Linked DNA regions of Homo sapiens: regions 1, 3 and 4 are each reported to be linked to region 2. Evidence: microRNA targets listed by miRTarBase, many of them from high-throughput screens and not tested one by one. Region 2 holds a microRNA gene; each other region holds the end of a gene's coding sequence.
Evidence for each region. The annotated mature microRNA hsa-miR-6834-5p reads GUGAGGGACUGGGAUUUGUGG and lies in region 2 at 2,707-2,727, shown strand. An mRNA with a match to its seed (bases 2 to 7 or 8) in the 3' UTR can be bound and repressed. Matches are read on the target gene's strand: a 7mer-m8 pairs with bases 2 to 8, a 7mer-A1 pairs with bases 2 to 7 and ends in A, and an 8mer does both.

Region 1: the mRNA of SH3BP5L is a reported target of hsa-miR-6834-5p. Seed matches in the 3' UTR shown: 7mer-m8 at 5,914-5,920.
Region 3: miRTarBase lists DCUN1D5 as a target of hsa-miR-6834-5p. Seed matches in the 3' UTR shown: 7mer-A1 at 5,251-5,257.
Region 4: miRTarBase lists HYOU1 as a target of hsa-miR-6834-5p. Seed matches in the 3' UTR shown: 7mer-m8 at 1,516-1,522.

The regions. Positions count from the first base shown.
Region 1 is chr1:248,805,643-248,812,758 of GRCh38, forward strand. SH3BP5L (SH3 binding domain protein 5 like) reads right to left here. Exons shown (of 7, transcript NM_030645.3): 7 at 4,804-6,728. The coding sequence ends at 6,258. It overlaps LOC124904577 (a long non-coding RNA gene), which reads right to left and starts at 1,876. Exons shown (of 2, transcript XR_007067008.1): 1 at 1,407-1,876. RefSeq lists a silencer at 6,718-6,767.
Region 2 is chr6:33,287,539-33,294,654 of GRCh38, forward strand. It overlaps MIR6834 (microRNA 6834), which reads left to right and starts at 2,707; the gene lies at 2,707-2,787. It overlaps WDR46 (WD repeat domain 46), which reads right to left and starts at 1,701. Exons shown (of 15, transcript NM_005452.6): 1 at 1,564-1,701; 2 at 1,266-1,475; 3 at 1,076-1,156; 4 at 820-932; 5 at 610-697; 6 at 427-488; 7 at 76-180. The coding sequence starts at 1,632. PFDN6 (prefoldin subunit 6) reads left to right here and starts at 2,063. Exons shown (of 4, transcript NM_001185181.3): 1 at 2,063-2,382; 2 at 2,636-2,706; 3 at 2,788-2,912; 4 at 3,178-3,395. The coding sequence starts at 2,319. The coding sequence ends at 3,307. RGL2 (ral guanine nucleotide dissociation stimulator like 2) reads right to left here. Exons shown (of 18, transcript NM_004761.5): 12 at 6,496-6,528; 13 at 6,257-6,378; 14 at 6,066-6,161; 15 at 5,875-5,986; 16 at 5,478-5,768; 17 at 4,892-5,006; 18 at 4,116-4,775. The coding sequence ends at 4,564. RefSeq lists enhancers at 1-227, 228-761, 1,296-1,829.
Region 3 is chr11:103,055,645-103,062,743 of GRCh38, reverse strand. DCUN1D5 (defective in cullin neddylation 1 domain containing 5) reads left to right here. Exons shown (of 8, transcript NM_032299.4): 8 at 330-7,099. The coding sequence ends at 385. Among named protein-coding and RNA genes, the nearest start is that of DCUN1D5, 33 kb to the left of the region's middle.
Region 4 is chr11:119,039,106-119,046,216 of GRCh38, reverse strand. It overlaps HYOU1 (hypoxia up-regulated 1), which reads left to right. Exons shown (of 26, transcript NM_006389.5): 25 at 386-436; 26 at 563-2,029. The coding sequence ends at 624. HYOU1-AS1 (HYOU1 antisense RNA 1) reads right to left here and starts at 2,029. Exons shown (of 2, transcript NR_186315.1): 1 at 1,472-2,029; 2 at 724-832.

The sequences.
Region 1 (7,116 bases), not on the chromosome of region 2:
GGCAGGCCAAGGGCAACCCTCTCTGAATAGTGTGGTCAGTGTTTTTAACACCGAAGCTCTCAAAAGAACTAATGTTTACTGAGCACCTAGAATGAGGGTGACCATATGTCCTAGATCACCCAAGTCAGTCCCAGGCCACACCTGCCCCCTTTCACACTCAGCTGTCCCAATTTAGACTATGCATCACGTATGGTCCCTGTACATATGTCTATTGTGTTATGTGTTGAGTGAGATGGAGTCAAGGATGATACTGACCCCTTCTTCTGAGGACTTAGGACCAACAAGAGACATGTCTACAACAACCGGCCCATTCTTCAGTAAGTCAAAAGAGCCATGGGGAACTTGAGAGTGATAAGGATTAATTCAGACTGGGCTAGAGAGGTGCCTGTGGTTGAATCCCAGCTCATGTGGACTTTTGACCACATGATCTGGTCCTCAAACCACAGGCAGCAGTTTGACAGTTTGAGAAGGGAGGAAACTTGTGCCAAGGGTAGCACAAGCAGAAGTAAGTCAGTAGACAGCTGTTTGGTGAAAATTTCCACATTCCAGGTCCTGAGAACACCAAGATGGGTGAGACACAGGCCCTGGGAGCTCAAGACAGATTTGGGAAGAGTGAGGATTGGGAGCCAGGCACCACTTCTCCAGTCTGAGACCAAGGGGCTGGTTCAGAGCTTCGGAGAGCAATGCCCAGCTGTAACCTCCCAGATTTTTCCTTGACTGCAGCCCTCATTAGTTATTTATTTACTTATTTTTAGAAATAGGTTGTCCCTCTGTCACCCATTCTGAAATAGTGGTGTGATCATAGCTCACTGCAGCCTCAAACTCCTGGGCTCAGGAGATCCTCCCACTAGCCTCAGGAGTAGCTAGGACTACAGGTGCATGCCATCACGCATTGCTAATTTTTTTACTTTTTGTAGAGTCGGGTTCTCACTATGATGCTGAGGCTGGCCTCAAACTTGGTCCTCAAGTGAGCCTCCCACCTTGGCCTTCCAAAGCATTGGGATTACAGCTGTGAGCCATTGCTCCTGGCCTGGTTATGTATTTTTCACTGCCCTGCACCACCTGTGCACACCTGCATTCCTTACCTGGAAGACCCACCCATGGCATTACAGTTTATAGTGTTCCTAACAAGGCCTACCACAGTGTTTGTACACTGAAAGATCCTGGTGAACATTTCTTAGTAAACTACACATATCCATTTGCCAGCCAGTGTATGGTCTCCTGGTTCCCTTATCCCAGGGCATGAGCAATGTGTTGCAGCCTGGGGCTCAGGAATGGTGAGCAGGCGTGGGTGGAGAAATTTATAAAGAGGCTGTGGAAAGGGAGAGGGAAAAGACACTAGGGAGGCCAAGGAAGGAGGTGAGCTCTGAGGAGAACAGGGTACATCTACATATCGAACATCTTACCTCCTGAGACCAGCTGCGCTGCAGACTTGAGCCAGCTCTCACACGCAATAGGTGATTCCGAGGACACACGGGAATGCAAGAGGCCCATGACAAGTACAAATAGGGTTCCATTCTGATGTATACACACCCCCACCCTTCTATGTGCAGTTTTTCAGGCCCTTCTGCAAAGTGCCCATGAGGCTGACCACGCAGGCTTGGAGGGTCAACACGCAGTGCGCGCAGGGAAATGCAGAGCCCAGGCTCTGCGCACTTTCTGGTAGCTGCTGCCCCCTGCTGACACAGCAAGACCTTGACAGCCCAAGAAGGTCATCTCCGCTCTTCCTGCCAGGCAGAGTAGGAGCATCTACAGATGGGTTGATTCCACACCCCACAAATACGTACAATTACAATATGTCAATTTTAAAAGATGTCTAAAGGCTGGAAGCATAACCAGGCATGGTGGCTCATGCCTGTAATCCCAGCAATTTGGGAGGCCGAGGTAGGGGGATCGTTTGAGCCCAGGAGTTTAAGACCACCCTGGGCAACACAGGGAAACCCCGCCTCCAAAATAATCCAAAAATTAGCTGGGCATGGTGGGACACACCTGTAGTCCCAGCTACTTGGTAGGCTGAGGTGGGAGGATCTCTTGAGCCGAGAAGGTCGAGGTTGCAGTGAGCCAAGATCACATCACTGCACTCCAGCCTGGGCTAGAACGAGTGTCACAAAAACAAACAAAAAAAAAGGCAAAGAGCAGTGGTTCAAGCCTGTAATCCCAGCACTTTAGGTCAAGGAGGGAGGACTGCTTAAGTCCAAGAGTTCAAAACCATTTTGGGCAACACTGCAATACATCTCTACAGAGAAAAAAAAAATTAAGTTAAAAATTAGCGGGGTATGGTGGTGTGCATCTGTGGTCGTAGCTACTAGGGAAGCTGAGACAGAAAGATTGCTCGAGCCCAGGAGTCCCACGCCGCAGTGAGTTATGATTGCACCACTGCACTCCAGTCTGAGCAACAGCGCAAAACCCTGTCTCATAATAAAATAAATATTAAAAATTAAATTTTTAAAAAGGCAGTGGGGTTGTCATGCTTGTCAAAAATCATATCCAGATGAGGAGGGAAACACAACCCTTTCATAGAGTCCACTTGCCTAGCGCAAGATGGGATGAAGCCTCCGTGAGTTAAGCACTCCGAGGCTGTGAAGAGGTGCTAACAGGAATCGCTGCACCTCAGATCCACTGATGTAGCAGCATGCCACACATGCCTCTATGCTCCCATTTTATAGGCGATAAAATTGAAGCGTCATGAAATTTGAGAATTCCCATAGAGATGTGATCCTGGGATTGTGCATCACCAGGTCCTGACCTCCAAACTGCTGTACTGATAAACCCACCTGATACAGCTGTGGGCTAAGAGAAGGGGCAAGAAGCAAAAGCACATTTCCTGAGCATCTGTTGGTGAGAGCCTGTGTCAGGTGTTGGGTAGACTGAGGCCCCAGCCCCACACTTGAGGAAGATGAAGATCAGAACAATTCATTACCAACAGGCCAATGTAACATGTAACATGACACAGTACAGGAATGGGGGATGGGGCCCTATGTCCCCCACACCTTGACCATCTCTTCCTCACCTTAAACAAAATTTCTCGACCCTCTTTGCTGGGAGAAGGAGCTAAGAAACAGTATTCCCACTTCTCATCTCTTCTTCCCAGCAAAACTTCCTCGGAGATGACTACCTCCACTTCCTCACCTCCTGTTCCTGTGAGCCCAGTGGTTCAAGCGTTTGGACTCTAGAGTCCAAGTGCCTAGTGGGAGCCGCCTCCGTTACCTTCAGCAAGGCTGAGTACCCCCCATTGTGCCTTATTTTCTTACCGTGGAAAGGAAATCATAGTGTTTATCTGTCCTATAACATTGTTGTAGAGATTAATTAGGGGCGTTCCTGGTACGTGAAATGCACTGGATGAGTACAAGTTACTACAACGAGGGTGGGAGGGAGGGAGCTCTTCGGCTTCTGTCTTCTTCTCCTTAGAAGTACCATTGGCTCTAACCTTCCTGGTCTCTCTTCCCGCCTGCCGCATCTTCTAGGTGATTTTGCAAGGAGAAACGCACGTGCATGGCATAGCCCTTCTTTTCTAGGGCTCTTCTGTACCAGGAGCCTCACAGGTCCTGCCTGCCAGTGACTGGGTAGGGAAGTCCAGCACTGTGTGTCATCTCAGAAAGCCCTTCATTAGGACTATAATACTGTATTATAGACTGAAAATTTGCTGAGAGTAGATTTTAGGCGGTTTCACAACAAAAAAGGGGGGAGGTAACTGCAAAATGATAGGCCAATTTGATACCTATTTCATTATGTGCATCAAAATACCATGTTGTTCACCTCCTATACATACAATTTAAAAAATTTAAAAAGCCCACTCACCCAAAAACATATGCTATGCATTTTCATAGCAGCTTTTCTAGTAATAAAATATTATGACACCCATCTGCCAAGTCAGGGAAGGCAATCTCAAACTCCTGGACAGCACCCATCCAAAGGCACAGTGAGTGCTCAGCACATAGCGGCCCCAGATGGCCCCTCAGATGGCGTCCACAGCCACCAGGGTCACTGCTCTGATTGCGTGCCTCCAATTCTTGGCCTTCACCCTGCCCCTTGACCCCAAGGTTTCTGGTCTTCCTCCCTGCCAGCACCTTCTTCTTCCCTTGGCTGACCTCTTCTCAACAAAACTCCAAATACTGGTACACTCCAAGTGCAGCTCAGGCTAAACAAAGCCTTTTGCTCTTCTTCAAAGCTCCTGGAGTTCACATCCCTATCCAATCTCCCACCTGTGAGTTCAAGTGCCCTCAAACCCCTCCCATCCCCCAGCCAGTCAAGCCCTGACTTGGAAGTCACCTTTTATCTAGGTTTTAATTTCAGAGAAACAACGGATAATTCATAATGTAAGTACATCCTAAACACTGCAGCAGACAAAAATACTGCCTATCTGAAATTTCAGTGGGTTCACTGTATTGATAAATCTGGCATCACTACTTGTGTCCCTTCTCTACATTCATGCTCACATCCAGACACATCTAAGATCCCAACCCTCTGGCACTCTCATCTCTTAGCTCAGACAGAGCCCACTCCACCCCGCAGGCCCCTTTCTACCAAACCCTCTCCTGGCACCCATCACCTCACACAGCATGGCCCCATGAGGCACCAACTCCTCCCCTGCTTCTCTACACTTGCCCTGTACATGACCACCCTGGCCATGGGGCCTTCCACCCCCGCAAGAGCATGCATAGCGCAGCTCACTCAATCTGGTCCTTCACCTCCCTTCCCTGACCACACCATCTAAAAAGCCTGCCGCCTAACCCTGCTCTTCCCTTGCCCAACCCTTGCCTCATCTTTGCCCCTTTTCTCTTCCTCCAGCAAGGACAGTAGATGTTAACTGTTACATAAACTACTTTATTTAAATAAAACCAGGAAAGACCCTTTCCCCCTTACACACCAGCACATGCACACACGCACACCCACACCCTCCCTCCCTTTCGGCTGTCTGCCCATGGCCACCTCAAACCCCGAGGTTCTCATTGTGACCAACCTCCCTCAACCTGTAGACCCCCGTGCAGAGTCCAGTTGCCCACGCATCCCGGTTGCTGGCAGAACATGGGCCTAGAAAAGAGCACTCCATCTTCCTGGGGTGGGTCAAAAGGAAGGACTGGTTCTCCCAAGGCACCCAGATCTGGTGTGGCTTCCCTACAAACTGGGAGCACTGCCAGGCAGCTGGAGCTGCTCCCTGCGGAGGGCAGAACTTTTCACCCCAAGCCAACCCCTCCCTGTAACAAAGGAAGTAAGAGGGTTGGCAGCCAAGCTTCAGTGTGCCCCGAGGGATCCTGCAGTAGGTATTTTCAGTTTGGGGAAGAGCAAGGGAGAGCAATTGAGCACCAAATTCCCTAACCCCGTCCTGCAGGAGGGTGCTGAGTCAGTTCAGCATCCTCTACCCAGAAAAAGTAAACACAACTGTGCAGCAAGAGTGAGGGTGGGAATGACAGGGGCCTAAGCCTTCAGGACCTCATGACTTCACCCCCAACATGGGCCCTCTTAGGGACCCACTAGCACCTTGGCAATGTTGAGGACCCAGCCCAGCGGAAACACCATACCCACAGGAGCCAGTCTGGAGTTGGTGATGCTCCCTATGTTGACAGTGGGGTTGGGTTTCTCTCCCTGACACCAGCTTCCTGCAGGCCCTGTAAGTTCTGCTTTGGGGCACACATCGCAGAGTGCCTCAGGTCATGAAAGGGAATGCTGAAGGGAAAGGTGGTGTCTTCCGGAGGCACACAGTACATCTTACAGGTTACACACGGGCAGGCTGGAGCAGGACGGGGGGCAGGGCTCAGCAGCATACCTAGGGTACCCTCCAGAGTTGCCTTGGGAAGGGGGGCGGGGCTGGAAACCAACGGGAGGGGTGACTGTCCATCCCCTCCGACGGGAGTACTCAGGCCCAGCACCCATTTTCTCTGATGAGCTTCCCAGTGCCTTCTAGACCAAGTTCCCTGAGGGAAAAAGCCAAACAGATGGAAAGAGAGGGAGCAGAAAGGGAAAGCAAAGGGTCAATGCCCTGCAGATCGTGATGAGCTGGCAGGCAGAGGCAGACAGAGCGCCGAGGGCGAGCCTTCTGAATGGGTAAGGCAAAGAGAGCCGCCTGCTGAGGGGAAGGGGGAGGCTGTGAGAACGCCAGGGCAGGCACAGAGGACTCGAACACAGCTGGCCTCTCCCAGGGAAGCACTGGAGAAGGGGACCTTCGGGAAGACGAGGCCCCAGAGGAGAGGGCGTGAGAAGACTGTGGGCCCCAACCGGCCCGTGGTGGCAGATTCAAGCCAGGAACCCTGGCCCCTCGGCTACAGGCTGACGCTGCGCTGGTGCCGACCCCCACGGGCTCCGCCGTCGCTGCCCCGGCGCCCTCCACTCCGCGTTCCCAGCTCTTGGCCGTCCAGACTGACGTGGTCCGAGAGGCCTCGCAAGTGCTCCACGGAGTCGCACTTCTGCAGGTCTGAAGCCACCGTGCGCAGGCTCAGCAGACTCAGGGTATCGGTGTCGGGGGCGGGGCCGGGCCCCAGGCTGCTGCCCTCCTCCAGCCCCGCACCCTCGGCCCCCTCAATCCCGCTGTCTCCGTCCTCCATGTCCTCGGGTCCTGCCTCGGCCCCCACGGGGGAGGAGCGCCGAGGGCCCAGGGGGTGGGGAGGCAGACCCCCGCGGCGCCGTGCGTGAATCTGCTCGCTGATCTGCTCCAGGTTACGAAGGGCCACGGAGTAGCGCGTCTTGGCCTGAGCTACCTGCTGCTCCAGTTCTGTCACCTTGGCCTTGTGCTCCTGCAGAGGGCAGAGCAGAGCAAGGCGACCCATGGGGCACGTCTCCACCTTCCTCAGCACTCTGCACTGAGGTCTGAGGGCCTGCTCTCCCAGAATACCTGGACAGCTGGCTCAGCATCCACCACAGACCCACAACAGCCTTCCCTGCTCCACTCTCAGCACCCACCACAGACCCACAACACCCTTCCCTGCTCCACTTGCTCTGCGTTGTTCCTCCCCAGCAATCCTGCTCCTGACCTGAGCCCCACCTTCCAGAGCCTTCCTCTCAGGCCTTCCTCTCCACCAGCTCCTGCTTCCTCATCCTCTCCCCACTGTTCCCTTTCACCCAATGGCTGGTTCTTCTTCCCCATCCCAGATTTCCACCAGTTCTTTTCCTCTTGTTTACCTC
Region 2 (7,116 bases):
TGAGGTCACAGGCTATCATTCAATCAGGAATGGACTATCTCACCCCAACTGACCGCTGACAGTGAGGCCACTGACCGGATGTCCCGCACCGCCTCCATGACGTTGATCTCGCACATAAGCTTCTTTGTTACCCAATCAAGGGCAGCCACATGACCTCGGCGCCCTCCAAAAGCCAGGTGTCTGTTGGAGGTGAGGGGCAGGCAGGGTGTTAAGGCAGGGGACCACCGACTCAGACAACTTGAGGTCTGCCCCACGCCAGCCCCATCTCTCCAGGCGGGCAGACACATGTTGCTGTAGGTGCTTACCCTCACACCCAAGCAAATCGAAGGACCCTCCCCTCATCAGCAACCCAAACATACACTGGGAATGGCTGAAGTGGTTAAGGAAACACATCTTAGTTCAAGAGTCACTAGAATTCAACCTTACCTTCCAGTTCGAGAGTAGTTTAGTCTGTAGGGTCCAAACTGCCGCAGATTCAAGTCAAAGTGCTGGGAAAGAGAAGAGTGAAAAAAAAGAGTGCCCTGCAGTAACGCCTTCTTCTAGCCCCCATTCCTCTATTGTCCTGCACCACCAATCAATCCCTTGGCTCCTTTACCTCCTCAGGCTCACCTTGGCTGCACTTGCAATGTCCACAGCCTCCACAATGTCAGCCTGGCATATCTTTGCTGTGTCTTCCCCATCCTCCCCTTCCAGAAACCTGAAAGCAAGGGTTAGGATGGCAGTAAAGCTTCCCAATATGAAGCAAGTATACCAACATAAAAACGAGAAAAGACAGTCCCAAAAGGCAGGGAATGGGGGTCCAGATTAGGGCTCACTCACCCAGGTTCTTCAGCAAGCAGCAGCTCAGAACGAGCAGCTTTGATACTTGTTTCCTCTTCCTCAGCTTCAGCCACCTCAAGTCGGCTTCGAGTTTTGGCTTTAGAATGTGGTAGCTGTAACATTGTTGGTGGGGAGGAGTGGCAGAAGAACCACAGGATAAGTGGGGTCACAGGAGAGCTACCTGTCCCAGCCTCCATCCAACTCACCCAGACACTCCCTGCCTCCAGCACTTCCCAACTCTCCGGCTGGACCTCACCTTTCGGGATTTGTCAATGCGACAGAACTTCTGGACCACTTCCACAGGGACGGGGGCGGGGCCTGGGAATGGATCTTGGGTCTAGGGGAAAGGAGGACGCAATTAGCAGACAGCCTTGGATTGACCCCAACCCTCTCACTCTCAAGGAACGAGGCGGCCTGCCTCGCCACCCATCAGGTCCCACGCTCACCCCGGACAAGCCGCGCTGGGACTCCGGGTTCTTCCATTCTCGGGGTTTCTTCGGGACCTGAGGCTTCTTAGAGATCCGAGACTTCTTTAAGATGTAAGCATTTTTTGGTCTCTGAGGACGGAGCTCCCGATTCTTCTTGTTACGAGGAGGCCCTGGAGAGGCTCCGGCTGTGGTCGGAACGGTCTCTTCCTCCCAGTATCGCCGCGGTTTCTACAGGCACATCAGGAACTCCGCACTCACGCCCCGCCCCCCGACCCCACAGCTAAAAACTTCGTTTCCCACCCAGGGAGGCCTCTACCTTTCTCTTGGTCTGAAGTTTGTCTTTCTTGGGCGGGACATCCTTGCCCGGCTTGGGGGCTGTCTCCATCTCGCCCACCCGAACGGCGATCCACGTGCAAAACTCCTCTCAGCTGCCACACAGTCGGCTTGAAAACTCCCGGAAGCCCTCTGTCCTTCATCCAATCAGCAGCGTACCAGGTATGAAGCTCTCTAGGTGCCATCTTGAGTGAGGGCACGCTCTCCTTAGAGGGGCGGAACAGTTTTTGGCACCTTATCGCGAGCGGCAGCTTATGCAAGAGTGATTTAAAAAAGAAAGGCAGGTCCGGAGCCAGGGGCTAAGTAGCGGTGCGGTTTCTTTTTCTGGATTAGTTTCCCCATCTTGCCTAAAAATGTCCTAGTCTAGTCTTTTTAGCAGAACTCCACTCCCTAAACATGTCAGAACTACACTTCCCATCAAGGGTCAGAAAGAAACTTCCGGCACAGTCTTTTCCCAGCATTCCTTGTTTACTTCCGGGTTTATTACTACTGAAGGAAGAACGTGAGTAGGTTAGGATTTCGGTTGAGAGGCTTGGGGTCTTGCGTTTCGCCCACCATCTCCTGGGGACAGGGTGGAGTCGATATCCGGGACGGGGGGGAGGTTGCGGTGCCCCTCAGGGCTACCTCTCAAGAGTGCTATCATTTCCGCAGGCCAGATCAGAAAAGGGAGCTCAGGTACCTTCCAGAGAGTGAGACCCAGCGCCCTTGTCTCGCACCCAGTAGGCTTTCATCCCCGCCATGGCGGAGCTGATCCAGAAGAAGCTACAGGGAGAAGTGGAGAAATATCAACAGCTACAGAAGGGTAAGGGAACAGGGTCGGTATGGTCTCGCCCAATGCACTTACAACCCAAAGCCATTACCGAGATAAGGTTTGTTGCCCCATCTGGGCCCTCGCGTGCAGAGACTTCCCCGCCTCAGTCTCAGTACTCTTCCCTGTTCACTCACCCGCTGCCCCCATCCTTTTCTGCTTCCTCAGATCCATATCCACCTGACTAGGATTGTGGGGATAGGTGGCACATTTGATGTTTCTAAATTGCCTTTCCTCTCATCCCCAGACTTAAGTAAATCCATGTCGGGGAGGCAGAAACTTGAAGCACAACTAACAGAAAATAATATCGTGAAAGAGGTGAGGGACTGGGATTTGTGGGGCGAGGAGGGACCTGTACTAGCCATGGTTCTGATCACATATGTCCCATCCCTCCATCAGGAACTGGCCCTGCTGGATGGGTCCAACGTGGTCTTTAAACTTCTGGGTCCGGTGCTAGTCAAACAGGAGCTGGGGGAGGCTCGGGCCACAGTAGGGAAGAGGCTGGACTATATCACAGCTGAAATGTGAGTTTTTATTCCACCACCGTGTGCTGCACCCTGTGATGCAAGTGAACCATTGGAGTAGAGGTGTTGAACCATTGCAGAACAGCTCTCCATAGTGGCCCCTAGTCCTCCAGTTCCTCCAACCCTTTCCTTCCCTTTTAACCCCCCTTCTTCTCCCTCCCCTGGATCTCAAGTTTTCCACCTATCTCTTTCTTGCGTTTAGCACTCTCCATAGTGAGTCCTACTAATTTCTCCCTTTCTGCTTGTCTCCCTTGTCTCTCCTTAGTAAGCGATACGAATCCCAGCTTCGGGATCTTGAGCGGCAGTCAGAGCAACAGAGGGAGACCCTTGCTCAGCTGCAGCAGGAGTTCCAGCGGGCCCAGGCAGCAAAGGCAGGGGCTCCTGGCAAGGCCTGACCCCATGGTGGGGGGAGGGGAGGGGAGGGGAGGGAATGAGGCAGCTCTAGGATCTATACTGTAGCTAATAAAATGTAAAAACACCTGGCTCTGTTTCCTGACCAGGCACTTCTGTCATATCCCCACAGCCCCTTCCACCTTAACACACACCACCTGTATTACCCCCTCAGGTTCAAACTCTTGCACTTGGAATCTCTTTGTGGCACAGTGTTCTTTCTTGAAAGTGAAATCCTAAATGTCTTCAAACCTACTTCTTGCCTGTATATACAACCCTTAACTCTCCCTCATCTTGGTTGGCATGATTCTTTTGGAAGGGCATTTGCAACATACCATATTGCTAGGAATGTCGGTTTAATTGAAAAAGAATACACAGTTCTCTAACCTGAGGCCCCAGGATGAAATGTGGTTACCCTCCTTGCCAACAGCCCTGGCATCTCTATTAGTACTTTTCAGCCTCTGTCTTCCTAGAATTTGCTTGAATGTAGCTTTAAACTGACTTAAAATCCCAGCATGTAATGCTTTATGGTATTATAAGTCCTCCCAAGTTTATATGTTGTCCATAAAGTTGTTCTGCCATTTCCTTGTCCTAAAATTGTTTTATACACATTTGCAGCAAGGGACCAGTGGTAGAGAGGTTACTGGAGAGAAACTGTTCTGAGGAAACTTTTTTCACCAATACCTCACTTTTTGCTCTGTTCATGGGGACAGAAAACATTGTGCCCCTTCCTGTTCCATGGCATCTACCTTCAGCCAATTCCCCACCCCCACTCATAGCAGCCAGTTCATATGTACTGCAAGGACAGGGGAGTAGAATTCAGGTAGTGTTTTGGTTTATTATCTTAGTGTTGTCACAGTGATAGAAACCCCCAGAGTGGGAAGAAGAGCTCCTGCGAGGACCTACATTTTGCCATTCCCCTCTGCCCTGGGGCTCAGAGCCTTGAAGCCTTTGCTTGGCCCTTGCATGTTAGGATATGGCCAAGAATCAGAAACTGATGCGTTTTTCCAGCACTACCTGTGTGCTGCACTCATGGAAGGTGGGAAGCTATACACAGGTATCCAACTTGGTTATAAGACACCAGTTCCCACAGGGCTGGATTTCTCAGCTGTCTGGTAAACCAGTGGCACTTCACTGCCCCAGGGTGGCTGGCTCCCTTTCTGAATTTCTGTCTCAATGTGATATAATTGCCACCATTCAGGATGGCTACCCACATCTGGTATGAACACCATGACTTCTGTAAGCCAACGGGGCTTCCTCCTCAGAACAGTGCCCGTGCAATCTTCCTCCCTGTGGCCTTGATCCTGGGAAAGGAGCCCCCTCCTCCCTCACTCGGAGGAGTTCCTGAGGCAGACGGGCCACTGGTGACGCCAGGTGTAGCAGTAGAGGACCTTCGCCGCTGCCGCAGGAGGAAATCGTGTGAAGCTCCATCCATGGCGTAGAATACATTAGCCGAGGCTGGGATAGTCAGCTCTGAAGGTTCAGGGGATGGATGTAAAGCACACACACAGTTGTTCCCCCCACAGCCGCCCAGATGTGGAAGTACTCCACTCTCCTCCCGAGTCTGCCTTTCCCTCATGGCCTCTGACCTCGCTCCCCTGGTAGCAGCTGTACCAGCTCATACTCTGAAGCCACTGCAGAGTCACGATTGTTTTTCTTAAGGACACGACTGATGACACTTGGAGCCTTGTCCTGGCTTGTCACCTGGCAGAACAGGAGACCAAAAGAGCAATCAATCAGCCATGATTTCCCATCCTTCTACCCTCAGCCACTGAACCCAACCACAAAATGTTACTTGTGTCCAAGGCTTTAAAATGAACAGGAAAACCCAATATGGTGGCTTCCTATACCCCATAAGCCAGCCCACATGGTGCCCAGTGAAACAGAGCTGCTTCCCTGTGGGGAAACTGCTGTTGATTCTGAAATTTTAACACGGCGACCAAAAGTTTAAGGTGTAGCAACTAATGCAAAATAGCCATCAAAATAAAACAAATTTCAGCTTCTATTGAAGACTAGAGTTTAGAAGATAAAATTAAAAATAAAACATAACTGCCAAAACCAAAGGTCAAAATTAAAACTACATTCAATTCCATTTGGCTGCCCAAACCTCAGACAACATTTATAGTCCAACAAGACACCATCCTTCACCCCAACTCCATCCCAAGGCTCCCTCACCAAAATGCTCTTATAGACACTGCCATCTTCCCCCAACTCCATCTGGACTCGGATGATACGGCAATCAGAGGCCCCTGGCCCAGATCCCTCTCCCCCATATCCAGTCCCCCCGGAGGCCTCTTCTGCACCCCCACTCAGCGGGGAGCCACAGGAGGCTGAGCGGCGGTGACCTCGAGAAGGCCTAGGGGAGGAGGCTGGTGGGGAGAGGTGGCTGGGGTCAGCTGGACTGTGCAGGGATGGACTGCTTTCCAAGGCAGAGTCTAGTGACGAGACAGATGGCCACTTCATGTGCTAGGAACAAACAACATGGGACTGGCATGAAGGCAGGGAGGTTTAAGGAAGAAACATTTACAGAGTGAGGGTCAGCGTCAAGGTCAGAGTCAGGAGCAGAGCTCACCTGGGCCAGCCGAGTCAGCAGAGGAGCAGGAGTTGTAGGCGCCTCATCTCCCCCAGTACTGGGCCGGTCACAGGACACAAGCGGGGTAGGGACCCCAACAGAGCCCAAAACCCTGCAGTGGCAGGAGATTGGGAGGATCAGAGAAAAGTGGAAGTCCCAAGAAACCACCCCCCAGCCAGTGAATCTCTCACTCTGTCCACTGCGAGATGACCAATGTTGGCCGAAGCACCCGTGGGGCAGGAGGGTCACTGGAACCAGGTGGCTCCACCTCACAGGATACACGATGGCTGGGTTAGGGGGGCAATAGGCAGAGCTCAGGACATGACACCAATCCCCCACACCTGGCCAGAACCCTGGAGTCCCAACCTCACCCGCCAGTCACCTCTGAGCCTCTGTCAGTGGCCGGAGCCCCTGTAGCCACCTCTGGATATCATGGTCAGGTTGGAGGTTATAGCCACGACATTCATTCTGGAGCCGTCGCAACTCAGAAAGGACTGCAAACTCCTGGGAAGGAGCCCTCAAACTGCAGGAGCCAAAACTCAGGGACCCCTGACTTTTCCCCCTCCCCTTCCTGGAACATGGATAGGGAAGTCCAGCATCCAGCCCAGACACTCCGCTCACCTTCCTCCGCTTGTCAAAATTGATGTATCCATTCTGCGAGGAAAATGGGGATGGGGTGAAAGTTCCAACCCTACCTTCCGGCCACAGAGAGAGAATATCCCCTCTCTTAAACACACACAGCCACATCCAACTCACAACCACTTCCCTCCAGCCTCTCTGACTCTTCGATCCCTCCCTGCCTTCCTCCTCAATCTATCATGGCCTAAGCACTCCACTTGACCCTTTAAATTGAATTTCTCAGGTAGACAACGAGTCTGCTTTGCAGATGAGAGGACTGGATAGTATCCAATTCGACAGGATTCCTTATCCAGAGAGGATAAGGAACTTGTCCAAGGTCTCAGTATTTGTTTATTTAACAAACTCTAGCAATAGAGCAGGAGCCCATCACAAAACCTAGATGTGCTTACGTTTCAGGCACGTTCTAAGCACTTGACAAATACAAATTCATTTAACCCTTATAACAGATCAATGTAGATGCTATTTCTAGTTTCCCATTTACAGATCACTGAGGCGACTTGGCACAGAAACAGATCTGGCTCTGTCCCACACTCAGCTATTTGTGCCTTACAGCCCCTTGCAAGGGGCGGGGGGGTCTGTCCGACCCTGCAGCCCACTTGTTAC
Region 3 (7,099 bases), not on the chromosome of region 2:
CACTTTTCAGATTGTTTCATAATTAAATGCCAGAATGCTATGGACACTTAGAAAAAGGGAGAGATTTGTATTGACTCAGTTACTGGAGGGTTCATGAAACACCTTGAGAAGGAAGTTGCTATAGATACCATTGTTCCTTGTGTCTTTAAGGGCAAAAAAGAAAAGGCTAATAAGAAAGCACCATTAAATGGAATAAGGTGTCTAGAAGCAGAACACCCAAAGAAAGGAAGGGTCATTCCTCTGTCATTGCAGAGCTCGTGGGGAGTTTGTTTTATAATTGGAGAGATGAGTTCACTGAATTCTGACAAAAATGGTTTCTTTTTTTCTAGGGCCTGTTCTTCTTGATGAATTTGTTGAGTGGCAAAAAGTCCGTCAGACATCATAGCAAGAACTATGTGAAGAAAATGCAAACCTTTCAATTCCCACGTGTATACAAGCTAATGTGATGAGGGGGAAAAAAATCCAACGGGTGCATTTTCATTCATATGAAAGACTTCTCATAGTACTTTTTTTTCCTTTTTTTAAAGGAGGTTTTTCTTGTTACATGTGATGGGCATTGAGCCACACCTCTTCTTAGACTGAATATTGAAGTTTTTGTTTTGAGTTATGTTTATAACATTTATTTCAGAACAATAAAGATTCAGATTTGTGACAAAGGCCTTAAAGTGAAGATGTCCCTTGAGTGTCAGAGTGGTATTTATTTTTGTAAATTTGAATTTTTTGATTTTTGAGGTTCCAATTCACCGTGAATTTACAGAATTTTCAAGATTTTAAACAGTCTTAATATTTGGCAACATAGTCTGCTGATGGTATGGCTCATTATAGTCATCTCTGCACAATTTGGAAGACTGTTGGCCTTGACTTCTGGGATAATGATTTGCTGATGCAGCTAATAAACATTTCTAGGTATTGGAAAAATGCTCCTACTTTTAGCTCTGGGTTTCTATAAAAGCTGCCAAGGTCTTATGCAGATGTCTTATCTCAGAGAGCTTAGAATTGGAAAGATTATGTCCAGTTGTTTTGTTTTCTAAAAAAGTTGTATTATTAAGTTGTATCATCATTATTATTGTTGATAATAGCATATTTATATTTTTAACTGTCATTATATAGGGAATTTTGTTTAAAGCACTTTTTTTTTTTTTTTTTGCCTTAAGAGAACGTTAGCTGTGATATGGATTTAATTAAGATACACATAGGAAAAGAAGACAATAGAATAAGGAATCATGAGAGAACTCTGGGTATAATTAATTGTGCACAACTCAATAGAGCCATTTACGTTGGTAGTATTGCAGCTTGCTAATTATCACAATTTTCTGCCTGTTGGTAATCAAGTGTCTTGAGGAAAGGGAAGGCTTTCCTAATTCATGTAAAAGGCACTTTTGTACTAGCAGCAGGCCTGTTTGTACATTCCTTTTCAAACCATCCAGTATCCCAGTGATATGAAAACTTTGTTCATATTCATAGCCCAGTCACAACTTCAGAAACATTTCTAGTGTCATTGTTTGAGTAGAGAGAAGTAAAGAGGTTATTTTTCCATAATAAGGGAGTGTTTCTATTAGGATTTAAGGTAAAGGTTGATTTTTCAGTGGTGAATTTGTTTAAAGAATGATTTCTCCATATTGATTACCTAAGAGAATGACATTTTAAAGTGTTTTATTGTTTGCTTTTTAGTTAATCAGCTGGGAAAAAAATGATTGCCACTGTTTTACTTGCCTTCTTAATAAGATTACTTTGTACAGTTTTCTGAAACACCCATAATAGTGGGAGACAGTTTTCCTAAATGTCTTATAGAAAAGGATAATACAGAATGCTCCTCTTAAGTATTAGAATCACTGAGTTATGAACTGAGCATACCAGTGGTGTTAGGATTTAATATTATGAATGATGTTTTAATATCAAATTTATTATAAGGAAAGCATTTAGATTTGTAGACCTTTAAATTTATAATTTAGTTGACTCTTCAAGGCACATCTGAACTGAAGAACATATCCACTTTTGTTAAATTCCAAAACATATAAGCAAAATCTTATAAATTGTCCATTTGTAACCTGAACTAATGGTAATATCTTTTTCATCTTCAGTATTTGAGTAAAATAGGGAACACTTAAAGCTTATAGATGACATGTTTTTTAAAAGGTATATTTATGAAAGCACAGGCATCCTTGGTATACGCAGGAGATTGATACCAGGACCCTTGTGTATACCCAAATCTGTGCATACTTAAGTCCTACAGTCATCCCTGTGGAACCTGCCTGTATAAAAAGTCAGCCCTCCCCGTGTATGTAGGTGTCGCATCCCGGGAATACTGTATTTTCAATCCATGTTTGGTTTAAAAAAATCTGCGTATAAGCAGACCCACACAGTTCAAACTCATGCTGTTCAAGGGTCAACAGTATTTACTTTGCATACTTATCCAAAGATACCTTTAAGACTTTTTGAGTCTGAAAATGAAATTTACTTTATTTTTTCCCTTAAAGTCAACTGTCCTATCCTACCCTAGCCATACTTTGGAGTCCAGTACCACTGAGGCCACGCTTGCTTTACTCTATTGCTCCATCTATTTCTCTTACCTTCTTAAAGTTATAACATTTGCCTACTTTGAAGGCAAATTTACTCTGCCTAATTCATCAGTCAGGGTGTGGGCTGTGTCCCTTCCTGTCTTTCCTTTGTTAATTTTGAATAGCATTTAATTTACTGGGAAATTTATGATCAAAAATGTTAAGTGATATAAACAATACAATATTAAGGACCCTGCAGTATAAAAAAGTCTAACTGTTGTGGTTCCTTTTTTGACTAGTTAGCTTTAAGTGCCTTCCCACGAACCCTGTTGTAAAATTTTCAGAACTACTTCCCTTTGTACAGGATGAAATACCGTATGGTGCTTTATAACATGGAGTTGAGTTGTTTCTATAAGAATATTATACAAATGTAATACTACTGGGAGAAAGTAGAGCCAGATGTTGATTGGACAGATTGCAACCCCCCCACCCCCCCACTCCTCGGGGCCAATAATTCTTAATAAGGTATGATGTTAATACCTCTAGGAAATTGCCAGGGATTCAGGTGACAGTGTGTGATGAAAACGGTGTATTGTGTGCTGGCCTGACTGCATTACCATGTTTGTCTTCTATTGTCTAATGATTTCTTATTTCTTAAATGCTGCTGATAAAATTATTGATATAATACATTTTTGACAGTAGTAGCATTTTTGTGTATAATGTATAGATTTTATTGGTTTTTACTCAGAAGCACTCTAGATTAGTGTTTCTTGAACTGCAATTTGAAGCCTTCTTTGGGAATGTTAGATTGAGGAGTATTTCTCTTAAATACAAATGCCTTTTCATCTAGCAAACCAAAAATTATATCTTAATATTGAATGCCATCACTCGGGGTCGGGGTGGGAGTAAATTCTGAGATAACTCCAGAGTTTTCAAGGCATACAAGGTATGTGGAATAGCACAGATTCAGAATACATGATACATACGTATAAAATGAAACATTTCACTTTGAAGTATTTCTTCAACAAAACATGTCCTGTCTGCCTACTTGCTAATGTGAAATTATGAAAGGATTTATTGAAATATATGTTCAGTTTGAGGTGTAATTGGTAAGAATGCCAGGTGTTGTTCTTCTGCCCTCTTAAAGAAGTGTACTTAAAACTATTGTGATAATTCATCTCTGATAAAACTTTGTTCTGGCCTTCAAGGCTCTTACAGCTTAATGTTTTAAATGTCTAAGGCATCAAATAAATTGAGGGCATTTTAATAAAAAAAAAAAAGGAAAACTAAATGCCTTTCTTTGTTAAAGCAAAAGGCCAAAAATAAAAAATAAAATTAAAACCCCCCCCAAAAAAACCCAAAAGTCTTACTCCTAAAGAAGAATTCTTACCTCTAAGGAGGAATCCTTCCCTCTTGAGGAAATACCACTTTTTGAGTGACATTAGAAATCATCACAAGGAAACATTTCAAAGAAAGGATCATTTTTTTTTCAGGAGAAAGAGGAATAACAATTTCATTAACTTCCTCAATAGGAAAGGCTAGTCTGAATTATTAAATATTCTGGATTATATCTTTTTTTAATGATATAGTTTTATTACTTCAGGAATATTTGGTAAGAACCAGGTAAACCTATTGTTTAAGATTTGTTCTTTTTTGTTAATAGACCTATGATTAGTATGGTGGAAGCCCAAAAAGCAGTCTAATTTTTATGATAAACTTACAGACTGTGGAAAGATGAATTTCTGCCCCAAACCTTGGATAAGTTGTCATTAATTTAATTGTAGAGATTTTTCTAGTGAACTTGTACTTCACTGGAACAAATCTTTAGATCTTTTAAAGCACAATTTATTTATGTTTTTAAAAACAGTCTTAAAACTGATCGATCATACATTTGCTGTGTCCACCTTACAATCTTTTACATTCTATTAGTACAGATAGTGTTTCCTTTGCTCCTTTTCCTGACCAGTTGTTATTGGTGTGACCATTTTCTTTTTAGGATCGATGAAACATTTTGCTGTGTATGCTGTGTCATGTATTAGAACCTCTTATAATATGGCTCATTTTTACATGGTTTCTGATTTACCATGTGTTAAATATTCCTTAAAATACATCTAGTAACACTATATAGTAAGGTTAGATTTTAACCTAAGTATTGAATCTTGTCTTATAATGCCAATTTTATTGGAGCTTTGTTGCATTTATTTTTGGCTCTATGGTCCATAAATGGGAGTTAATAGCAAACGTTTTATTAAAAATGTCTTAGCTTTCCCCCAAATTATATCATTTTTTAGAAGTTTTATCCTTCTGGGGTGTTTTTGGCTTTCTGAGCTTTAAGATATTAATGAATTTTTTCCACATACTTCATGGGTTTGGTTTTAAGTATGAGGTTAAAATTGTGGATTTTAAAAAGCTAATAAATACTTGAAGTGAATATATAGAGAGAGCCAGATTTCCCCAAAACTCTGTGAGCTGTGTGTGTTTTGTGTAGAATATTAGCCATAATTAACTTTTCCCTTTTTTTTTTTGGAGACAGGGTCTTACTCTGTCACCCAGGATGGAGTGCAGTGGTGCGGTCTCAGCTCACTGCAGCCTCGACCTCCTGGGTTCAAGAGATTCTCGTGCGTCAACCTCCCAAGTAGCTGGGATTACAGATGCCTGCCACCATGCCCAGCTAAGTTTTGTATTTTTTTTTTTGTTTGTTTTAGTAAAGATGGGATTTCACCATGTTGGCCAGGCTGGTCTCAAACTCCTGCCCTCAAGTGATCCCACCCACCTCAGACTCCCAAAGTGCTGGGATTACAGGTGTGAGCCACCACTCCTGGGAAATAATTAACTTTTTCACATAGAAAATAGATCACAGATAAAAGCTCCTCACATATTTTGAAGGTCAAAAAAAAATTTGCTGTTGCTAACAATTGCCTTTGAACCATGAAAGAGGAAAAACTAACTTTATTTGAGCAACTTGTCATTTGAGACTTAAACTAACTTATCAAACTTAGCAGAATTAACTTGTGAGTATTGACTTAAGTGAAGTTAGTTTATATACTTTACTATTCTGTCATGCAAATAAAATGGCTTAGAGCAAGTTCATACACAGTTACTTTTATCTACAAATGTAGAAATCTTACCTATTTGAAATTTACATTATTCCCTGAAACTATGCCTATTGAGAGAGAGTTTATAGAAGTATTATCTGAGAAACCTGAGTTTGATTTTCTTTTTGTGACATTCCTGTTAATGTCACTTTTAAACAAGCCACTTAACCTATGTCATTTTCAGTTTCTTCTGTAAAATGGCGATAATGATACCTACCAGTATTGTTACGAAGTTCAAATAGGCCCTATCCACAGCACTTAGTAGGTGTTAAATGAATGCGTCTTGTTACTTGAACAAGAAGTGGTTAGTTATGATAGTTTATTTTTTTCTGACAAATTTACTGTCTTTTATAAAAAGAAATAGCTAGGATTTCCTGTGTTATCCTGCCATTTTTATAATCAAACAAAATTATTAATATTCTCCTTAGACTAAATCATTAATTTAACAAATCTCAAGCATCTACTATATGCCAAGAAGTATTCTAGGCCTGAATATATTGCAGGGCACGAAGCAAGACAGTAATTTCGAACCTTTATGGGATTTTTATTTTAATTGGTTAGTAAAATAGTTTATCATTTGGTGACAAGGTTATATGGGGAAAGTAAGTTGAGGAAGGGGCCCAGAGAGTGTGTGAGGATAGGATTACTATTAAGTAGCATGTACACTGATATGTGACATTGAGCAGAGGCCTGAGGAGGTGAATGGTTGTGCAGTGTGGATATCTGGGAGGAGAGCATTCCAGGCAGAAGGAATATTACATGCTAAGGCCCTGAGCTGGTACAGAGTGTAAAGAAACAGTAAAGAGATCAGTGTGACTGTAGTGAACAATAATAGCATTTTAGGGAGAATTAGAAAATGAACTGAGAGAGATTGGGAGTAATAATCCTGCCTGATTGTAGGTAATTACGTAGGGCATTATAGCCCTTTCTCAAGAGTAGGACTTTACTGAGTGAGCTAGCAAGCAATTAGGATTCAGATCAAAGCAAGGATGGAAGCAGGTAGTAGTAGGAAGATAATATGGTAAATCCAGGTGACAAATGGTACAATTTGAGATTAAGAGTAATGGAAATAATAAGTGGTCAGATTCTGAATGTATTTTGGTGGTAGCACCAAAAGGATATGCTGATAGAATGGATGTGAGGTATGAAAAAAAGAATGATCAAGGTTTTTGGCTTGAAGAATGAAGTGGGCATTAATAAGATGGCGAAGACTCAGAGGAGCAGGCTTAAGCGGGTAGATTGAGAGTTTACTTTTGGATATGTTATGGTAGACTTGTCTGTCAGACGTCCAAAGGAAAATGTAGAGTGGGCAGTTGGATATTTGAACCTGGAAAAGTAGAGGTCTGGGCTGGAGATAAATATATTTGGAAGTCATCAGTGTGTAATCTTATTTTAAGTCAGGACATGGATGAAACCACTTAGAGAGTAAGTGTAGCCAGAGGATAGAACTTAATTGAAGACATATGATCGATGAAATTCAAGGCCAACTTTTGTGATTTTTCAAAT
Region 4 (7,111 bases), not on the chromosome of region 2:
AGGCGGGTAGATCACCTGAGGTCAGGAGTTCGAGACCAGCCTGGCCAACATGGTGAAACCCCATCTTTACTAAAAAAATACCAAAAAAAAGAGTCAGGCGTGGTGGCGCACACCTTTAATCCCAGCTACTCAGGAGGCTGAGGCAGGAGAACACTTGAACCTGGGAGGCAGAGGTTGCAGTAAGCCAAGATGGCGCCACTGCACTCTGCACTCCAGCCTGGGCAACAGAGACTCTGTCTCAAAAAACAGAGTAGGCAAAGAGACCAAATGTGGTACATGCATCCTAAAATATTTACTAGCTGGCTCTTCATGGAAAAACTGGCCCAGCCTTCCCTTAGCCTCTTCCTCCCTTCTGAGGAGACTAACCTGTTTCTTCCCAAAGCAGGATCCGAGCCAGGAGACACTGAGCCTTTGGAGTTAGGAGGTCCTGGAGCAGGTGAGGATGGAGCCGGGGCTACGGTGGGAAGCCTGGTGGGGTCTCAGGAAATCCTTTGCAAAGAACTGGGGTTGGTTCCTCTGTTTCACCTGCGGTGATTCCTTTGCTCCCCCAAACTCCCAACAGAACCTGAACAGAAAGAACAATCGACAGGACAGAAGCGGCCTTTGAAGAACGACGAACTATAACCCCCACCTCTGTTTTCCCCATTCATCTCCACCCCCTTCCCCCACCACTTCTATTTATTTAACATCGAGGGTTGGGGGAGGGGTTGGTCCTGCCCTCGGCTGGAGTTCCTTTCTCACCCCTGTGATTTGGAGGTGTGGAGAAGGGGAAGGGAGGGACAGCTCACTGGTTCCTTCTGCAGTACCTCTGTGGTTAAAAATGGAAACTGTTCTCCTCCCCAGCCCCACTCCCTGTTCCCTACCCATATAGGCCCTAAATTTGGGAAAAATCACTATTAATTTCTGAATCCTTTGCCTGTGGGTAGGAAGAGAATGGCTGCCAGTGGCTGATGGGTCCCGGTGATGGGAAGGGTATCAGGTTGCTGGGGAGTTTCCACTCTTCTCTGGTGATTGTTCCTTCCCTCCCTTCCTCTCCCACCATGCGATGAGCATCCTTTCAGGCCAGTGTCTGCAGAGCCTCAGTTACCAGGTTTGGTTTCTGAGTGCCTATCTGTGCTCTTTCCTCCCTCTGCGGGCTTCTCTTGCTCTGAGCCTCCCTTCCCCATTCCCATCCAGCTCCTTTCCCCCTGGGTTTCCTTGGCTTCCTGCAGCAAATTGGGCAGTTCTCTGCCCCTTGCCTAAAAGCCTGTACCTCTGGATTGGCGGAAGTAAATCTGGAAGGATTCTCACTCGTATTTCCCACCCCTAGTGGCCAGAGGAGGGAGGGGCACAGTGAAGAAGGGAGCCCACCACCTCTCCGAAGAGGAAAGCCACGTAGAGTGGTTGGCATGGGGTGCCAGCATCGTGCAAGCTCTGTCATAATCTGCATCTTCCCAGCAGCCTGGTACCCCAGGTTCCTGTAACTCCCTGCCTCCTCCTCTCTTCTGCTGTTCTGCTCCTCCCAGACAGAGCCTTTCCCTCACCCCCTGACCCCCTGGGCTGACCAAAATGTGCTTTCTACTGTGAGTCCCTATCCCAAGATCCTGGGGAAAGGAGAGACCATGGTGTGAATGTAGAGATGCCACCTCCCTCTCTCTGAGGCAGGCCTGTGGATGAAGGAGGAGGGTCAGGGCTGGCCTTCCTCTGTGCATCACTCTGCTAGGTTGGGGGCCCCCGACCCACCATACCTACGCCTAGGGAGCCCGTCCTCCAGTATTCCGTCTGTAGCAGGAGCTAGGGCTGCTGCCTCAGCTCCAAGACAAGAATGAACCTGGCTGTGTCAGTCATTTTGTCTTTTCCTTTTTTTTTTTTTTTTGCCACATTGGCAGAGATGGGACCTAAGGGTCCCACCCCTCACCCCACCCCCACCTCTTCTGTATGTTTGAATTCTTTCAGTAGCTGTTGATGCTGGTTGGACAGGTTTGAGTCAAATTGTACTTTGCTCCATTGTTAATTGAGAAACTGTTTCAATAAAATATTCTTTTCTACAGTTTTTGTGCTGTGAGTTTTTAAAAATAGAAAAATTTTGGGCCAGGCATGGTGGCTCATACCTGTCATCTTAACATTTTGGGAGGCCAAGATGGGAGGATAGCTTGAGGTCGGACCAGCCTGGGCAACAGCAAGACTCTGTCTCAAAAAAAAAAAAAAAAAGTATCTGAGTGTGGGGATGTGTGCCTGTAGACCCAGCTACTTGGGAGACTGAGGCTGGAGGGTGGGTCCCTTGGGCCCAGGACTTCGAGGCTTCAGTGAGCTATGATCGTGCCACTGCACTCCAGCATGTGTGACAGTGAAAACCTCAAAAAGTTTGAATAATTACATCATCAAAATGTTATTGACACTTTGGACTTAGTTGAGATTTGTATATGTATTTTTTTCAAGGAAACAAAATACTGGTTTTATTTTACTGCTAACATTATTTGGACTCCTATATCCCAGGCATTTTTAAGTAACGTACTTTTTTTTTTTTTTTTTCTTTGAGACTGGGTCCTGCTCTGTTGCCCAGGCTGGAGTATAGTAATGCGATCCAGGCTCACTGCAACCTCCGCCTCCCGGGTTCAAGTGATTCTACTGCCCCAGCCTCCTGAGTAGCTGGGATTACAGGCACCTGCCACCATACCCAGCTAAATTTTTTTTGTATTTTAGTAGAGACGGGGTTTCACCATGTTGGCTAAGCTGGTCTGGAACTGACCTGAAGCGATCCACCTGCCTTGGGCTCCCAAAGTGCTGGGTTTACAGGCCTGAGCCACTGGGCCCAGCTGGTAACATTAATTTTTAAAATAGCAACCTCATTGTACAAATAAGATACCAGTTCATAGAGATTTAGCAAGTAATTGGTCCAAGGAATGAATCAATGTTGAGTGCTTCAGCTAGGTTTGAGCTTAATTCTGACCATTCGCCCTTGTTCTTCGTACTTAGCCGTGGGAATGTGTTGGTAGAGACCATTTGTAGCAGTTTCGGTTCATCAGTTTGGGATGCAGCATGCCTAGCCCAAATTTTCTATTACCAAGGGAGGATCCCTCTTGTCACTAATCATGTACATATCTAAGCAGTTGTATACGGTATACAGGGTGTTGCTCTGTCACCCAGGCTGGAGTGCAATGGTGCCATCTTGGCCCACTGCAGCCGCGACCTCCCAGGCTCAAGCAATCCTCCCACCTCAGCCCTGTAGCAGGGACTACCTGGCTAATTTTTGTATTTTCTGGTCGAGACGGGGTTTCACTATGTTGCTCAGGCTGGTCTTGAACTCCTGGACTCAAATGATCTGCTTGCCTTGGCCTCCCAAAGTGCTGGGATTACAGGTATGAGCCACTGAGCTTGGCCCCGTTGTATTTACATTTAATAACCATGAAGGCCCAGCCGGGTGTAGTAGCTCACGCCTGTAGTCCTAGCACTTTGGGAGGCCAAGGCAGGCGGATCATGAGGTCAGGAGATCCGAGACCATCCTGGCTAACACAGTGAAACTCCGTCTCTACTAAAAATACAAAAAATCAGCCGGACATGGTGGCACCCGCCTGTAGTCCCAGCTACTCAGGAGGCTGAGACAGGAAAATCAATTGAACCCGGGAGGATGAGGTTGCAGTGAGCTGAGATCGTGCCACTGCACTCCAGCCTGGGCGACAGCTAGACTCTGTCACACACAAAAAAAATAACCACGAAGGGTTGTCTTTTTTCTCTAAAAGTTGAACAAGTCAGATAAGTTTTGAATGTGGAAGTTTTGGGTTTTTGTTTTTTTTTTTTTGGATGACTTTTAGACAGTTTCAGATTCACAGCAGAATTGAGCAGGAGGTACAGAGTTGCCATATACCTCCTGTCCCCACATACTCAATCTCCCCCAGAGTGGTACATTTGTTACAATCACCCAAAGTTCTGTATGACACCATAATGGTGGGTACATATACATTTGTCAAAACCTATAGAATGTGCAACACCAAGACAACTGAAAGTGTAGACTTTGGGCAAATATGATGAGTCAGTGTAGGTTCCTCAGATGTAACACCTGTAGACCTCTGGTGTGAAGTGTTTATTATGGGGGAAGCTGTGAGTGTATGGAGGAAGGGAATATACGGGAACTCTGTATTTTCCCCTCAATTTTGCTGTGAACCTAAAAGTGCTCTAAAAAAAAAAGGCGAAGCTAAGTGCAGTGACTCATGGCTGTAATACCAGTGTTTGGGGAGGCAGGAGTGGAAGGATCGCTTGAGGCCAGGAGTTTGAGACAACATAGCCAGACCTCATCTCTACAAAAAATAGTAGTCCTAGCTACTCAGGAGGCAGAGGCAGGAGGATCACTTGAAACTAGGAGTTCAAAGCTGCAGTAGATTATGATCGCACCACTGCACTGCAGCCTGGGAGGGAGAGACCCCGACTCAAAAAAAAAAAAAAAAGGCCCGGCGCGCCTTGCCTCAAGCCTGTAATCCCAACACTTTGGGCGGCCGAGGCAGGCGGATCACCTGAAGTCAACAGTTTGAGACCAGCCTGGGCGACAAGAGCGAAACTCTGTCTCAAAAAAAAAAAGGGTGGGGAGGTGGGGGGCAGGCACGGTGGCTCGGGCTAGTAATCCCAGCACCTTGGGAGGCTGAGGCAGGCAGATCACAAGGTCAGAAGTTTGAGACTAGCCTGGCTAACACAGTGAAACCCTGTCTGTACTAAAAATACAAAAATTAGCTTGGCGTGGTGGTGGGCACCTGTAATCCCAGCTACTCAGGAGGCCGAGGAAGGAGAATCACTTGAACCCAGGAGACAGAGGTTGCAGTGCGCCAAGACTGGGCCACGGCACTCCAACCTGGCAACAGAGCAAGACTCCGTCTCAAAAAAAAAAAAAAAAAAAAAAAAAAATCGGGACTAGATGGCTTCACTGGTGAATTCTACCAAATATTTTTAAAATATTTATTTTGGCCAGGGATGGTGGCTCACATCTGTAATCCTAGCACTTTGGGAAGCCGAGGTGAGTGGATTGCCTGAGCTCTGAAGTTTGAGACCACCCTGGGCAACATGGCGAAACACCATGTCTACTAAAATACAAAAAATTAGCCGGGTGTGGTGGTGTGTGCCCGTAGTCCCAGCTACTTAGGAGGCTGAGGCTTGAGAATTACTTGAACCCAGGAGGCAGAAGTTGCAGTGAGCTGAGGTCATGCCACTGCACTCCAGCCTGGGCAACAGAGCGAGACTCTGCCTCAAAAATAAAAATAAAAAATAGCCAGGCCCGGCCGGGCGCAGTGGCTCACACCTGTAATCCCAGCACTTTGGGAGGCCGAGGCGGGCGGATCACCTGAAGTCAGCAGTTCGAGACCAGCCTGGCCAACATGGTGAAACCCAGTCTCTACTAAAAAATACAAAAATTAGCCGGGCTTGGTGGCAGGCGATTTAATCCCAGCTATTTGGGAAGCAGAGGCAGGAGAATCATTTGAACCTGGGAGGCAGAGGTTGCAGTGAGTGGAGATCAAGCCATTGCACTCAAACCTGGGGGATAAGAGCAAGACTTCTCTCAAAAAAAACAAATAGCCAGGCCCAGTGGCTCACGCCTGTAATCCCAGTCAGGATACCTCAGGTCAAGACCAGCCTGGCCAACATGGCAAAACCCCATTTCTACTAAAAATACAAAAAATAGCTGGGCGTAGTGGGGCTGGGCGCAGTGGCTCATGCCTGAAATCCTAGCACTTTGGGAGGCCGAGGCAGGCAGATCACCAGGTCAGGAGATCGAGACCATCCTGTCTAACACGGTGAAACCCCATCTCTACTAAAAATACAAAAAAATTAGCCGGGCATGGTGGCAGGTGCCTGTAGTCCCAGCTACTTGGGAAGGTGAGGCAGGAGAATGGCATGAACTCGGGAGGCGGAGCTTGCAGCAAGCGGAGATCACTCACTGCACTCCAGCCTGGGTGACAGAGCAAGACTCCATCTCAAAAAAAAAAAAAAAATCCTCCTGCCTGTGCCTCCCAGTGTTGGGATTACAAGCATGAGCCATCCTGTTCAGCCAGGGGCTAATTTTGAAACAAGCCAGGAATAAAGACCCAGCTACCTGTGGGGAAAAGAAAGAGAGATCAGATTGGTAATGTGTCTGTATAGAAAGTAGACATAAGAGACTCCATTTTAATCTGTAACCCCACCCCCAACCCTGTGCTCCCTGAGACATGTGCTGTGTCAACTCAGGGTTAAATGGATTAAGGGCTGTGCAAGATGTGCTTTGCTAAACAAATGCTTGAAGGAATCTCAAGTACCCAGGGACACAAAACACTGCGGAAGGCCGCAGGGACCCCTGCCTAGGAAAGCCAGGTACTGTCCAAGGTTTCTCCCCATGTGATAGCCTGAGATATGGCCTCGTGGGAAGGGAAAGACCTGACCGTCCCCCAGCCCGACACCCGTAAAGGGTCTGTGCTGAGGAGGATTAGTAAAAGAGGAAGGAACGCCTCGTTGCAGTTGAGACAAGAGGAAGGCATCTGTCTCCTGCTCGTCCCTGGGCAATGGAATGTCTCGATGTAAAACCCGATTGTATATTCCATCTACTGAGATAGGGGGAAACTGCCTTAGGGCTGCAGGTGGGACATGCGGGCAGCAATACTGCTCTGTAAGGCATTGAGATGTTTATGTGTATACATATCTAAAGCACAGCACTTAATTCTTTACCTTGTTTATGATGCAGAGAACTTTGTTCACGTGTTTACCTGCTGACCTTCTCTCCACTATTATCTTATGATCCTGCCACATCCCCCTCTCCGAGAAACACCCAATAATGATCAATAAATACTAAGGGAACTCAGAGGCCGGCGGGATCCTCCATATGCTGAGCGCCGGTCCCCTGGTCCCCCGATTTCTTTCTCTGTACTTTGTCTGTGTCTCTTTCTTTTCCAAGTCTCTCGTTCCACCTAACAAGGAACACCCACAGGTGTGGAGGAGCAACCCACCCCTTCAGCTACCGAATCCTCCTGTTTAGGGGGAGTCACGACCAATTAATCCAAAACCACCAGGTAGAAGTCAAGATGATGCCAACTGGGCTTCCAGACAAGAAATTACTCAAGAGAGCTATCGGAACAAGACACATAGATACCCTCCTGTACCACTCCCATATGTTTCCCAT